2 separate regions of the Homo sapiens genome follow, and region 1 is linked to region 2. Evidence: fine-mapped expression QTL. Tissue or cell type: whole blood. Region 2 holds a variant in brackets; the other region holds the start of a gene. All regions are shown on one strand. Distances are from middle to middle.

Evidence for each region. PIP is the estimated chance that this variant, and not a neighbour inherited with it, causes the effect.
Region 1: it holds the start of AP3M1, and the variant in region 2 is fine-mapped to the expression of AP3M1 in whole blood (INTERVAL, PIP above 0.99).

Annotation. Positions count from the first base shown.
Region 1 is chr10:74,146,535-74,154,625 of GRCh38, reverse strand. It overlaps AP3M1 (adaptor related protein complex 3 subunit mu 1), which reads left to right and starts at 3,798. Exons shown (of 9, transcript NM_012095.6): 1 at 3,798-3,871. It overlaps ADK (adenosine kinase), which reads right to left and starts at 3,405. Exons shown (of 11, transcript NM_006721.4): 1 at 3,283-3,405. The coding sequence starts at 3,347. RefSeq lists enhancers at 3,055-3,234, 3,645-3,874.
Region 2 is chr10:74,691,414-74,699,518 of GRCh38, reverse strand. The region is part of intron 10 of ADK (adenosine kinase); the gene reads right to left. Among named protein-coding and RNA genes, the nearest start is that of KAT6B, 130 kb to the left of the region's middle. The variant G/C (reference allele first, on the strand shown) is at 3,566.

The DNA of each region.
Region 1 (8,091 bases), 540 kb after region 2:
TCAGAAAGTCACTCAGAAGCACATACTCAGCAGACAGTAAAAATTAAGGTCTGGGAAGGCAGGGCACGGTGGCTCACACCTGTAATCCCAACACTTTGGGAGGCTGAGGCAGGTGGATCGCTTGAGGTCAGAAGTTCAAGACCAGCCTAGCCAACATGGCAAAATCCCGTCTCTACTAAAAATACAAAAATTAGCCAGGCATAGTGGTGTACGCCTGTAATCCCAGCTACTTGGGAGGCGGAGGCAGCAGAATTGCTTGAACCCAGGAGGCAGAGGTTGCAGTGAGCCGAGATGGTGCCACTGCACTCCAACCTGTGCGCCAGAGTGAGACTCCAACTCAAAAATATATACAAAATTAAATTAAATTAAGATCTGAGAACTGAGAGGCACAGAGATAGAAAGGACACATGTGAGAGTGTCTAATACAAAGCCTGGACCCCATACATCTCTGCTTCAGTCAGACTATCTGCACTTCCCCAAGAGGCAGCTCTCTCCCAGTTCTGCCACCAAACAAACTTTCCTATAAGGCAGATACCCTACTTCACAGATACCCTACAGTCACAGATGACTGGTTAACTCCTAGTCATCTTTAAGAATACTCAGGTGTCATTTTCCCAAACCCCACTTATTTCCCACCAAGAGGATGGTACCTGTGCCTTACCTCTTTCTCTCTCTATATATATCCAGTTTTTAACACCATGTCTAAAATAGCATGTACTTGAAAGACAAACTGAAGGAAAAGACTTGGCACGTGCTCAACAAGCCTTGGAAGGCACTGTAGCCTCTTAAGAGGCGATCGCTAAAGAAATGAACTTGGATGAGATTTCCAAAGGAGAGAAAAGAAAACTAAGTTGTCTTAAATATAAGTGATCATCATGGAACACCTTCATCTAGGGAGCAGTTCCCAAAAATGTTTCTCCACTTCTTTCATCACAAAATAGCTCGTCTGTAACACAGGAATCATTGCTCCTACCTCATAGGTCACTGGGAGGGTTAAAAGAGATAACATATATAGAGCACATAGTATAATGTCTAGCACTCAATTAACGTTCCCTTCTTTCCCCTAATCCCACGTGAAAACATGTCAGAGCCTGATTCTTTCTTTATAAGCAACTGTTATATGCTGAAAAGCAACCGAGCCTAGAAAAATAATAGATATTTGAGAAAGGCAGACTAGTCTTGTCAGATGCTCCCTCTAGAACAGATTTCTCAACCTCAACACCGTTGACGTATTTGGCCAGATAATTCTTTGTTGTGGGGGTTGTCCTATGTAGCATGTTTAGCAGCACCCCTGAATTCCATCCACTAGGTGCCAATAGCTCTCCCTACCAAAAATATCTTTCTAGACCACGCCAAATGTCCCCTGGAGGGCAAAATTTCCCCTGGTGGAGAATTATTATCCCAGAGCTGACCAAATTCTCACAAATCCCTAAATCTAAATATTTTTCCTGACATCTACAAATATATCTCATTATTTGTTCCCACTGATGCTGCACATTAAATTATGCAAAGTCTTTATAATCCATTCTCCTTAACCAAAACCAGTAGCAATCCCCTGTCAAGCAAGTCATCATAAATTCAGTGTAAATACTCAATGCATTATCACACTTTGAGTCTGAAAGCAAATTAATATAATAAAAGTAATAATAGCCGATCCTAAAATGTCTCCCCACAAAATTAGAGATTTGTCCCAGTACTCAAGTGTCTAATCTTTTAACTTCATGTCTACAGGTGGCACTAAATTCATATTGTATAAAGTGAATTTTAGTTGCCTAAGGAATGCTCTCACCACAGCCTCACAAAGCACCAGGACTGCAGGTATAAGAAAACATGCTCAGCTAGTTCCTATTTCTGTTCCTGTACTAATTGTTTTATTTGGGCTTCAATATCTTCAATTGTAAAATAGGCATAATTCTTGCCTTCCTTTGATCACAGAACTGTCCAACAAGATAATAAATAGGAAAACACAGTGAAAATGGATCAGCATTATATATAATAATTTTTATTAAGGAAAAATCTAAGGAAATCTAAGGGTTATATGTTCAGTAGGATGGTAGGGAAAAGTTGCATCTGTCTTCCAGTTTGGCGAAGGAGGTGCCTTATAAGGAAATACTCTAATAAAGGGCAGAGTAGGGAAAGCACATGCCTTGAACTCAGGTAGGTCTGATTCAAAAGCCGTTGCTTTTTATTCTGCATATAGTTGGAATATTTAAAATAAAAATAGAATATCCTGAGGGTTTTTATTTTAAAGTTTATGTTCTTGGTATAAGGTAGGCACACTAACCCTTTGAGGGTAGTAGGAATACATTAAAGGAACTGGCAAGGATTTGTTCACCCTCCATTCAAAGCAGCATGAACACACCACCAGGCCCCTAAGTGTCCTTTTCTTTTCAATTGTGAGTGATTCCTTCCTTTGGAGGTGAAGAAGAGTGATACTGGAAGAAATGGGATATGTCCTGTTTAATCAGGAGTGTCCTAATAGTTTTAAATCAGTTTGATATGTCTATTTTAAGATGGAAAAAAAAATCGCTGCCTTTCAGCGAACATTTCCAAATCATCAAAGACTGCCTGCTTCACTTTATACTTATTAGGAAGGGATATTTTAACAAATGACTCTTCATAAGTAAAAGTTGCAACATCAATCACATGTGAGGCAGGTGTTAGGGGCAGCACTGTCCCCGTTGCTGCCAAAAAGTGTAAATAAAAAAGAGAAATCAACCTTTCCTATCCATTCATCCAAATGCTGCCCCTGCAAAGCATCGGAGGGGTCTGGGTCCCTGGTAGAGGGTCCTCAAAGGTACGGGCTTTCAGAATGTGCACGAAAAGGAAGGTCAACGTGCCCTTCCGCAACACTCTGAAAAATCCCCAAGAATTCTGACTTTGCCCCAGTGTACAGCAGTTGCCGAGCCTCTTTCCCGCCATCCCCCGGGAAGAGAAGGCGGCCGCCTACAGACGCTGCTCCGGTCCGACCCTCCGGGGTCGCACCAGCCCAGCCTGGGCTTGCTCGCAGGTGGCGCGGTCAGCCAGCTCGGTCCCCCTGCGGGCCACGACTGGCGAAGGGCTGCTGGAGCCGGAGCTGCACCAGACAGGCGGGGACTCAGCCAAACGGAGAGAACGTCTGGCAAGGGGTCGCGGCCAAGCGGGCAGCTGGGGGAGGTCCTGCGTGTTGGCCCCAAGCTGGCAGTGAGAGACACCACCCAGCGTCGGGGCCGTGCAACCCCACGTGGGCCCTGGCTTGCTTGCAGCGCCGTCACCCTCCTCCCCAAGTCCGGCAGCGCTCACCTCAGCGCTTGCGGCGCCTCCACCTTCAGCTTTTTGGGCTTCGGCTCCTCCTCAGCAGCTGCCATCTTCGCGCTCCCACCCCACTTTGGCTCTACAGCCCACCTCTGCCATCCACTCTCTGGTCCCGCCCCCTCTTCGCATCACCGCTTTCTCTTCTCCAAATCCCGCCCCTCCAGACTCCGCCCATTCTGTGCCGCTGTCATCCACAATCATTGGCTCTATCCGTCGGCACCAACAGCGAATGCCCCGCCCATTCCTGACCCCGCCTCCCCTACCATGAGGGACCCCAGACTGCGTTAGGCAGCAGATGACCGCCTGAATCTAGATGGAGAGAAACCCACCATTTTTCTAGGCCCTGGATTATGTAGAAGATTTAGATACTAAGCCTCAAGAGACGTCTTTCCTCTCATTTACGGTCTTCCTGCATATTTAAAATTTCTAATACGGTAGACAGAGTCGGTGTCTTTGAAGCTGTTAATCAGGCAATTTCCTGGGCACTCCAGCTGCGGGTCCTCGCGGCCTTCTCGGCTTCTCCAGCTTCGGTAGGAGAGGATCCGGCGCCGAATCACTGACTGGCACAGGTGTTGGGGTGAGTGTGAGGGGCGGGAAATCTGTGGACTGGGGACAGCTCCAAAACCCGGGAGTAGGCTGAATAGCTGGGGCCCCCGACTCCGATCTGGGCTCTAGGAGCGTCTTTGGTGCTGTTGGCCCGGGCCTCGCTTCCCCCCCACTCCCGGCCTTCCGGGCTTTCTCGCCAGCAAGGCCAGAAGGGAGCGGTCCACCTGCAGCCCAGTGTTCTCAGGCGCCTGAGCCCCGGAGGTCAAGCTTACTGGGTTCCCCCTCTATAGTGAGCTGGAGTACAGACGGCAGGAATCTCAGTCCCAGGTTTCTGCTTTGGAGGACAAAACCCCAAACGGACCTGAGCAGACGTCCTGTTAGCGGGTGGTGCCTGGAAGAGCCTGGGGTGAGGAATGCAGTGAGAAGGGTGTTGCAGTTCTTCAGGAGAGAGGTAACGGGGTTCTAAGCTGAGCAGGTGGCAGTGAGTGTGGAAGAGTGACGGGCGATGTGGCTGTTTGTATTTGGTAGATTTGTTTGAACCTGAAACTTACAGCCTTATGTGTGATTAAGAAGATGGTGCCAGTGACAGGAGGAGGTATTTTATGGAGTTTGAGTTTTATCGAATTTGAAACAGTGGTTTACATGGAGATTGTAGAAAGACTTTAAAAAAAATTATGAGAATTAAGCCCGAAAGACTTTCAAGGTGAGACCCAAAACAGATGAAGTTTCATATAAAAGGGTAAGAAGTATTTTTGTTTAGGAGAAAGTTATCAATGACATAAAATGCTGCAATGGTCAGAGGAGGAAGCTGAAATCAGAATAGGTCGTTGGATTTTATAATTAGAAAGTCATTGAGCTGTTTGAGAGAGATGCTTTAATAGTAACTGAGGAAAGACTGCAAGTGTAGACCAATCCTTCATCATTTGGGGCATGAAGCAAGATTATTGAGAGTGGCAAGGTGGGGGAAAGTTTGGGGTTTGTTTTAAAGAATACAAGATATCTATTTGGGGGCAGGAAGCAAGCAACTATTTGAAGATTCAAGAAAAAGTCTTGTCTCCCAGAAGAGAAGGAAAGGAATGGGATCAAGTTACAAGTGAAAGGATTAATTTGGGAAAGACAGAGGGACACTTTCAATTGACACTATAGGAGAAGTGAAGTGAATGAGGTTAATGAAGAATTATCTTAATTTACGAATCTTGGCCAGGCGCGGTGGCTCACGCCTGTAATCTCAGCACTTTGGCAGGCTGAAGCGGGCGGATCACAAAGTCAGGAGTTCGAGACCAACCTGGCCAACATAGTGAAACCCTGTCTCTACTAAAAATACAAAAATTAGCCAGGTGTGGTGGCACACGCCTGTAGTCCCAGCTACTTGGTAGGCTGAGGCAGGAGAATCCCTTGAACCCGGGAGGCGGAAGTTGCAGTAAGCTGAGACCTCACCACTGCACTCCACCCTGAGCGACAGAGCGAGACTCTGCCTCGAAAAAAAAAAAAAAAAAAAAAAAAAAAAAAAAAAAAAAACCTTACGTATCTTTAGGAAAGCTCTCTTTGCAACAAGATTATATTTTCTTACTTAATCTTATGATTTTTATTTCTAACCATTTAATATAATATACGGCCAGGCACGGTAGGGCTCATGCCTGTAATCCCAGCACTTTGAGAGGCTGAGGTGGGTGGATCACGAGGTCAAGAGATCGAGACCATCCTGGCAAATATGGAGAAACCCCGTCACTACTAAAAATATAAAAATTATCTGGGCGTGGTGGCACGTGCCTGTAGTCCCAGCTACTCGGGAGGTTGAGGCAGGAGAATCGCTTGAACCCAGGAAGCGGAGGTTGTGGTAAGCTGAGATTGCGCCACTGCACTCCAGCCTGGCAATAGAGTAAGACTCCGTCTCAAAAAAAAAAAAAACAAACCAATATACTATGGGCAGATGGAGTGCGGTGGCTCACGCCTGTAATCCTAGCACTTTGGGTGGGTGAGGCGGGAAAATCACTTGAGGCCAGGAGCTGGAAATCAGCCTGGGCAACATAGCGAGACTCCATCTCTACAAAAAATTTAAACATTAGCCAGGCTTTGTGGCATGTGGTTGTAGTCCTAGCTACTCAGGAGGTAGAGGCAGAATGAGGCAGAAGGATCACTTGAGCCCAGGAGTTCAAAGTTACAGTGAGCTATGATTGGTCCACTGCACTTCAGCCTGGGCAACAAAACAAGACCCTATCTCTTAAAAAAAAATACATATACACATACGCTATGGGAGTTCTTTGCAGATTTAAATATTTTTAAGTAGCTCAGTACTGTGTCAATTCATGAGTAGCACATGGTATTTACAGAGAAGAGGACTTCTCTCTCCCTTTGGAAATGACCTCTCTCCCATTACACAGAGAAGGAGAGCCATCATCTGCCTGCAGTCAAGTATACAAACCTTCCCTTCAATCTGAAGAGTAGAAAGTGTTCCTTCTCCTTAGAGAAGGCAAACCCTTTGACCTAGTCTCTCAGTAGCATCCTCTCCTGCTATGTCAGGGTCCTCTTTCCGTTTTTCCCTCTCTCCTATGTCAGCTTTTCCCCCTCTATTCACACCTTTCCTTCAGCATTTGAATGTATTCTTCCTTCACTTTATGAACTGCTGCATTTATTTTCCTGTCTTTTCATCCTCTTCACAGCTAGACTTCTTGAATCTACTCTACATATCTCTATTTTTTTACACTTCTTGCTATTTATTTCCCAGCCCACTGCAATGTCTTATTTCTAGCATTCCACTGAACTACCACCAAAACTATTTTTTTTTTCTGAGATGGAGTCTTGCTCTTGTCGCCCAGGCTGGAGTGCAATGGCAATCTCGGCTCACTGCAACCTCCGCCTCCAGAGTTCAAGTGATTCTTCCGCCTCAGCCTCCCGAGTAGCTGGGATTACAGGCGCCTACCACCATGCCCAGCTAACTTTTGTATTTTTAGTAGAGACAGGGTTTCGCCATGTTGGCCAGGCTGGTCTCGAACTCCTGACCTCGTGATCTGCCCGCCTCAGCCTCCCAAAGTGCTGGGATTACAGGTGTGAGCCACCGCACCCAGCCCACCAAAACTACCTTTACCAAGATCACCAGTGTCCTCTGTGTGTTAAATCATGCATTCTCAAAGCAGATAAAAACTGCTTCTTGTGAGGTGAAAAAAATATAATACTCTTTTTATGTGTAAAGCACAAATACAATACATAAACAGAGAATATTCTGTGGTATTAAAATTTTATGGTGATATTAATTAGCTTCATTTAATTATTCCACATTTCATAAATCATAACATCTGGTACCCCTAAATATATACAACTATAATTTGTCAATTTACAGTTGAAAAAGAAAGAATAATAAAAAGTTTTATGGGTGAGGAATTTGATTGGCAGGGTGGTGAGAAGATGGAGTCTAAAAGGGCTCCTTAGCAGGCATTAAGGAAAAGAAAGTTTAAAAAACACTCTTAAATCAACAGACATTTTCAATTCTTTTTTGTTGTTGTTGAGATGGAGTCTCGCTCTGTCATCCAGGCTAGAGTGCAGTGGCGCCATCTCGGCTCACTGCAGCCTCCACCTCCCGGGTTCAAGCGATTCTCCTGCCTCAGCCTCCAGAGCAGCCGGGATTACAGGCACCCACCACCACACCCAGCTAATTTGTTGGTATTTTTAGTGGAGATGGGATTTCACCATGTTGGCCAGGCTGGTCTCGAACTCCCGAGCTCAGGTGATACTCCCACTTTGGCCTCCCAAAGTGCTGGGATTATAGGTGTGAGCACCACGCCCAGCTGACATTTTCAATTCTCGTAGCTTAACCTCTTTGTGCCATGTAACAGTATTTACCACTCCATTCTTCTGGAAATACACTAATAAGCTATAGTTACTAAAAACCACCCTGTTTTTTTTTTTTTCTTAGGACTCTTCAGTCACATCTTGGTCATTCTTTAGGTCCACTTCCTTGACCCACCTCCTACTCAAATGTTGGAGTTCCTGCCATAAGCTCTCTTCATACTATGCACATTCTTTCTTTTGTTTCAATTCTCCTTTTGATTAATTCCCATTAACAAAAAATCCTGATTACTTACAATTCTGATTCCAATCTGGCTTCTCTAAAGCACCAGAAGGGTATATATAATAGTTTTTTGAATATATTTATTTGGGTCAGATGTATCCAGAATTGGTCAAATTACACAGGACCAGGCCAAGTGACACATCTCTCTCATCTCCACACACCCCCTCCTCCAAGCCTAAATGTTT
Region 2 (8,105 bases):
TTTCAGTAGAGACGGGTTTCACCATGTTGGCCAGGCTGGTCTTGAACTCCTGACTGCAGGTGATCCGCCTGCCTCGGCCTCCCAAAGTGCTGGGATTATAGGTGTGAGCCACCATGCCTGGCCTCACTCTATTTTTAAAAGTTCCCTGCATTTTAAGTATATTATTCCAATAAAGTGTTTTTCGAAAAAAAAAACCAACAATAACAATATGCTATTAATAGATACAAATACTGTACTGTGTCAGCAAGTAAACAAAGTACTTTTTAATATTTCATTCACTGAAACACAGCCTCAGGCCCCAGAGTGTGGTTGGTAAACACTATAGCAGATAAATGTGGCTTGCAGGTATTAAAAAAAAAAAAAAAAAAAAGGCTAGGTTGGGTGGCTCATGCCTCACCTCTAATCTGAGCACTTTGGGAGGCTGAGATGGGAGAATCATTTGAGCCCAGGAAACCAGCCTGGGCAACACAGGGAGACTCGTCTCTACATAAAAAAAAAAAAAAAATTAGCTGGGCGTGGTGGCATGCACCTGCAATCCCAGCTACTTGGGAGGCTGAGGTGGAAGGACTGCTTGAGGTGGGAGGTTGAGGCTGCAGTGAGCTGTGATTGAGCCTACTGTACTCTAGTTTGGGCAACAACAACAACAAAAAAACAAAAACAAGTCAGGCCTGGTGGCTCATGCCTGTAATCCCAGTACTTAGGGAGGCTGAGGCACCCAGATCATTTGAGCCCAGAAGTTTGAGACCAGCCTGGGCAACATGGCAAAATTCCGTCCCTACAAAAAAATTCAAAAATTTAGCCAGGCGTGGTGGTACATACATGTAGTCTCAGCTACTTACTCAGGAGGCTGAGGTGGGAGGATCACCCAAGCCTGGGAGGTTGTGGCTGCAGTGAGCCATATCGCTCCACTGCACTCCAGAATGGGAGAGAGAGTGAGACACTATCTCAAACAAAACAAAACAAAACAAAAAAGTCTGCTCTTTTTAGAACAAGATTTGGGCTTACCAAGAGTCCAAAAAGCAAAATATTAAATAACTGACTTTGAATGTATGTTTAATAAGAAAAAGTCTCTTAGGATCCCTTTTTCCCAGTGCCACTGGCTTGTGGTCCTTATCAGTACATCATCTTGAAAATGAAGAGCACAGCTCTGTATGTATGCTTTTCAACACAGCCAAGAGAGCAGGCATAGGAGGCATTACACCAGAGAACAAGAACCATCAGTGCAGGTTTTTCCAAATCAAGAACTCATATGCTGAGGCAGTTGTTGTTGCCTTTTTACTTTGGTTCCTTCTCTCTATCCTGTTACACATAGGCGTATCAACCTGGGCCTCTCAGGCTTTTCCCAGCTTTAGGAGACGTTATAGACTTTAGGTCCTCTAGCTGACGAGGCATAAGGTGAGAATCTCTCATCGACAATAAATTGGGTTCCTAGAGCTATTGTTAGCTGGCTCTGAATCCTGGAACAATCTTTCCAAATAAACCTCTGTTCATTAACAATTGGTGTAGCCTATTATCTTCTGGTTGATTTTATTTAGACTTTTACTGATGTTACAAAATGTGATCAATAAATTGACAAATTGTATCTGGTATTTGACATGAGACCTGAAACATATGTTAAAGTTGTACAAAAAGAGGAGGTGCTACACTAGTTTCCTCAAAGCACACAGAGGTAGGATTGCTGGTGTGCTCAAAAGGCAATGTAATTTCCTAACTTAAGCTGTCTATTCCATGTAGTTACTATAGAAGAGCTATAGCATCTAGAATTTTCTTAGTGTCATTTACAGAGAATCAAGAAATATTGTCAGTGGGTACGGAAGCCTTAATGGAGACACTTAATAAGCTAGGGATATTTTAGAAGGAAATGAACAAAGTCTTTATGAGTCCATTTTTTCTTTTCTATTTATAGTTCCTTAATAGTTTTTCATGGTAGCTGGAACCTAAAACCCAGTAGACTCTATTACTGTTCATTCTATATTCAGCAGCTTGTCAACAAGTAAGCAAGCTGCACTTTTTAAACTTGGAGGAATAAAGTTTTTTTTGTTTTTGTTTGTACTCCTGGGCTCAAGCAATCCTCCCACTTCAGCCTCCTGAGTAGCTAGAACTACAGGTGTGTGCCACTATGCCTGACTAACTTTTCTATTTTTTGTAGAAATGGAGTCTCACCATGTGGCCCAGCTGGTCTGAACCCCTGGGCTCAAGCAATCCTTCTACTTCAGCCTCCCAAAGTGCTGGGATTACAGGTGTGAGCCACTGTGCCCGGCCAGAATAGTTTTACTAATTCACTTTTTACAAGTATATATTACGCTGAAATTGTTTTCCCAAAGATACAGTACAAATACATGTCAGTGGCTCTATTTTTATCTTCTTAAATAGTTCCCAGAAACCTTTTATATATAGTAGACCACCATATGCCTATGTAGAGTTTAAACATTTTAAAGTTTTTGGAAATATATAATTTGTTGTAAAAAATCTCATTTTACACTAAATTTAAATTATTATACATCTAGGTAGTACATTGTTCACCTGGAAAAATATACAAATGTTTATGCATTGAAAATAGATTTTAAGCCACATAAATTTAAAGGTCAGAGAATACTGTGAATAGACAGCAATACCTCATATATATAAAGCCTGAAGCCATAGCAGCTCCATGGCCATCCATATTACACCTATAAGGACCCCTCAGGCCTTCACTAAGAGATTATTTATTTTTAAGAAAGCAAGTGAAAATATTGTTTTTCTGATTATAAAAGTCATACCCAATAACTGCAGAAAATGTGGAAAAAGGGAAACAGTAAAATTACAAATAAATAGAAAACATACACAGTCCCATTAAAAATAATAATGAGGGCTGGGCATGGTGACTCATGCCTGTAATCCCAGTGCTTTGGGAGGCCGAGGCGGGCAGATCACAAGGTCAGGAGATCGAGACCATCCTGGCTAACATGGTGAAAACCTGTCTCTACTAAAAATACAAAAAAAAAAATTAGCTGGGGGTGGTGGCGGGTGCCTGTAGTCCCAGCTACTCGGGAGGCTGAGGCAGGAGAATGGCATGAACTCGGGAGGTGGAGCTTGCAGTGAGCCGAGATCGGGCCACTGAACTCCAGCCTGGGTGACAGAACGAGTTCGTTTCAAAAAAAAACAAAAACAAAAACAAAAATAAATAAATAAAAAATAAAAATAAAATAATAATAATCAGGCCAGGCGTAATGGCTTGCACCTGTAATCCCAGCACTTTGGGAGGCCGAGGCTGGTGGATCACTTGAGGTCAGGAGTTCGAGACCAGCCTGGCCAACATGGTGAAACCCCATCTCTACTAAAAATACAAAAATTAGCCAGGTGTGGTGGTGTGTGCCTGCAATCCTAGCTATTCGGTTGGCTAAGGGATGAGAATTGCTTGAATCCGGGAGGTGGAGGTTGTGTTGAGCTGAGATTGTGCCACTGTATTCCAGCCTGGGTAACAGAGTAAGACTCTGTATCAAAAAATAAAATAAAATAAAAAATCAATACTATTTAACATAGTGGGGAAGCCCTAACAAGAGTAACAAGACTAAAAAAAATTTAA[G/C]AATTGTAAAGGGAGGCTGGGTGCAGTAGTTTGTGCCTGTAATTCCAGCACTTTGGGAGGCTAAGGTGGGCAGGTCGCTTAAGCCCAAGAGTTCAAGACCAGCCTGGGTAAGAAATTGAAACCTCGGCTCTACAAAAAATACAGAAATTATCTGGGCATGGTGGCACATGACTGTAGTCCCAGCTACTTGGGAGGCTGAGGTGGGAGGATTGCTTGAGCCCAGAAGGATGAGGCTGTAGTGAGCTGTGAACATGCCACTGTACTCATTCTATCCTGGGCAACAGTGCGAGATCTTCACACACACACACACACACACACACACACACACACACACCCCACACATACACAGGAATTGTAAAAGAAGAAATAAATTTGTCAATATTTTCATTGAGAGCAGCTTTGTATATAGAATATACATACATATATACATATACATATATACACACATACACACATACACACACACACACACACACACACATATATATATACAAGAGCAACAGTTTTAAAAATGTAATTTGGTAAAAATACAAAAGCGATGCAAGTTATGCCAGCCTCTAATAAAGAAAACTATAGAACTTTATGGAAAGATATTACAAAGGACCTAAATGGAGAGATATGCTGGGTTATTGGAGAAGAAGATAACATTCAATACAAATTCAATCACAGTCTCAACAATGTTTTTGGGAACCTGATAAGTTGATTCTAAAATTTATATGAAAAAGCAAAGGATCAAGAACAGGCATATACACTTACTGAAGTAAAAATGATAGGAGAGACTAGTCTTACCAGATTAAATACTTCTAAAAATCTATAATAATAAATGCAGTGTTTGTTGGCATAGCTATAAATAAATAGAGAAAAGGTGGAAACTTGAGCTACAACAGAGTTGCCATTGCAAATTCATGGGGAAAAGATGGCTTCTTAGAAAAGTAGTGTTTAGGCAACTAGTTTTCAATTTGGAAAAATAACATTACCTCACTCTATATTAAAAAAAAAAAGAATTCCAGGTCTATCAATGAGTTAAATGTAAATGGAAAAATAGTAAGACTTTTAGAAGAAAATAAAAAATATCTTTATGTCCTAGAGGTAGAAAATATTTCTTAAATAAGACACACAAAAAGCAGAAACCAGAAAGTGAAAGATTAAACTGTGCTAAAATGAAAACTTCTGGCTGGGCACAGCAGCTCATGCCTGTAATCCCAGCACTTTGTGAGGTTGAGGCAGGAGAATTGCTTGAGCCCAGGAGTTTGAGACCAACCCTGGCAACACAGCAAGACCCTGTATCTACAAAAAATAGAAAAATTAGCTGGGCATGGTGGTGTAAACCTTTAGTCCTAGCTACTCGGGAGGCTAAGGTAGTGGGGACTGCTTGAGCCCAGGAGTTTGAGGCTGCAGTGAGCTATGATTGTGCCACTGTACTCTAGCCTGGACTACAGAGGGAGACCCTGTCTCAAAAAACAAACAAACAAAAAACCCCAAAACCCCCAAACCTTCTGTTTTGCATATGATACCTTTAAAGAGAGGAAATTAAATAAATAAGTTTCTTTTTCTTTTTTTTTTGGGGTAGAGATGGGGCCTCACTAGGTTGCCCAGGCTGGTCTCCAACTTCTGGCCTCAAGTGATCCTCCCACCTCAGCCTCCCAAGGTTTTCAGATTACAGGCATGAGCTACCACACTGGCCTGATCCTGACTTTATAATTTCTACTTGTGTTTCCTTCCATTTTTAGTCTTTAGTCAGATCCAAGAAGTACATTTAGAAACATGTTTAGTCAAAATAGTAAAAAAAAAAAAAAAAAAAAAAAATGTGTTTGAAAAAAGTTAAGTTTCTAGAGTTGGGATGACTTTTTTCCTGTTTGTTTTTCTTATGTTTTAAATATTCTATAATAAGCTACATTACACTTTTCAAATCAGATCTAAGTCAATAAACCTTTTTAAAAAACATGGGAACTTTAAATTATTCAGAAAAATGGTTATTAAGAGCAACCATTCAAGAGTTTCAGCTAAGTGATGTGTTATTTTAATAGTTTCCCACTCATGCCTTTGGAGTGAGTTAGTAATTGTAGCCACTGGATGAATTTTCCACAAGGTAAATCAGTACAAGTATCAGTATAAGTAGAATAAAATTGGTCACTCTTCTTAGAAGATTCCTCAAGCACATAAAAATCATCACTATTTCCTGTATTTTACTCTTAGGCTTAGGGAAACACAGGCAATTTTAGAGAAGGCAATTTAGAAAGTTTCTGAGGGAACCTTAGCACAACCTTTCTTTCCCAAATGAAACTTCCTCTTACAGAAGCTATATACCAAGTAAATCAGTACGCATCTTTTGAAACGGAAATTCAAGGACTAATACTTCCCTCACAGGGAATGCCGGGGGGATTCCTAACAGAATTAAGAAGGATAATCATACTTAGAGTAGCTATCACGTGATAGCAATGAAAACAAGTATTTTGGTAAAAACTGTGAGGTCACTGGCCACAGGACACAAGTCTAAGCCATAGCACCTTAAGGCAGTGAAATTGATGACACTGGGAAACACAGACCATCATACACACCCAAGATGTCAGTAGAATAAGATGGATCGAAGAAAGGTTTTCCCACTTGGGTTTAAAAAAATTAGACTTTATATTTTTGGGCAGTTTTAGGTTTACAAAACAATGAAGCAGAAAATACAGAGAGTTCCCAAATCTTCCCTCATCCCCTTACTCCCCAGTTCCACCTATGATTAACCTGTTACATTAGTTAGTGGGTGTATTTGTTACAATCGATGAGCCATTATTGACATATTATCATTAAATAATATCTATAGTTTACATTAGGGCTTACACTTTGTGTTGTATATTCTGTGGGATTTGACAAATATAATAATATACACCATTAAAGTATCACACAAAACAGTTTTGCTGCTCTAAAAATCCTCAGTGCTCTCTACCTATTCATCCCTCTCTCCTTGCGCCACAGCTCCAGCCCATGGTAGCTACTGACTTTTTTACAGTCTCCATAGTTTTGCCTTTTCTAGAATGTGATATACAGTCTTGAGTTGCTTAACAACGGGGATATATTCTGAGAAATGGATCACTAGGTGATTGTGTCATTGTGAAAACATCAGAGTGTACTTACAGAAACCTAGATGGTATAGCCTATTGTTCCCAGGCTACAATCCTGTATAGCCTGTTATTCTATTGAATTTTAGGTAATTGTAACAAAATGTTAAGTACCTATGTATCTATACATATCTAAACATAGAAAAGGTACAGTAAAAATAAGGTTTTATAATCTTATGAGACCACTGCCATATATGTGGTCTGTCAATGACCAAAATGTTATGTGGTGCATGACTGTAGTTAGAATCACACAGTATGTAGCCTTTAAGACTGCCTTCTTTCATTTAGCAACATGCATTTAAGGTTCCCTCATGTCTTTTCTTGGCTTAATAGCTCATTTCTTTCCTTCTTTCTTTTTTTTATTTTTGAGACAGAGTTTTGCTCTTGTTGCCCAGGCTGGAGAGCAATGGCACGATCTCAGCTCACTGCAACCTTCGCCTCCTGGGTTTAAGCAATTCTCCTGCCTCAGTCTCCCAAGTAGCTGGGATTATAGGCGCCTGCCACCATGCCCAGCTAATTTTTGTATTTTTAGTAGAGACAGGGTTTCACCATGTTGGCCAGGCTGGTCTTGAACTCCTGGCCTCAAGTGATCTGCCCGCCTTTGCCTCTCAAAATGCTGGGATTACGGGTGTGAGCCACCATGCCCAGCTGATAGCTCATTACTTTTTGTTGGCTGAATCATATTTTATTGTATCGATAATGTTTATCCATTCACCTAGTGAAAGATATGTAGCTACTTCCAAGTTTTGTCAATTATGAATAAAACTGCTATAAACATATGCATGCAGGTTTTTGTGAAGACGTAAGTTTTTAAATCATTTGGGCAACGAAGGAGCCTGATCGCTAGATCATATGGTAAAAGTATGTTTAGTTTTGTAAGAGATTGCCAAATTGTCTTCCAAAGTGGTTGTTTACCATTTTGCATTTTTTACCAGCAATAAATGAGAGTTCCCAGTGCTACACATCCTCACCCCATAGGCCACACATATAACCTCAGGATGTTGGAAAATGAGATGAGTGAAATATTTTTCAATTAAAAAAAATTCTTAGTATTTACTTAAAAGAAAAACCTCCCCAAATAAAAGGAACTGTTTAAAATTACATGCATTATATCCCAAACTCATTGATCTGTTGCGTGCTTTGTCAACTTACTTTGTTGTATGTTTATGGTCTTCAGAAGACACTGTGACAAGCCATGGAGAATTTACCTCAGACTCGTTTGGTATTCTCCATGGCTCTGGCTCAGATCCTTAAGGACTGGGTGCAATGATCTAATTAACCATTTGCATTCCTGATTGTAATAATTCTATGATTTCCCTGCTGCCTCCATCCCTCACCCCACCCTTGCTCACTCACTTAAGTTACCAATGTTCTTTATCCATGAGTAATATCAAACTTCACACTGTATAGTAGTGACAAGCTAATTACATAGT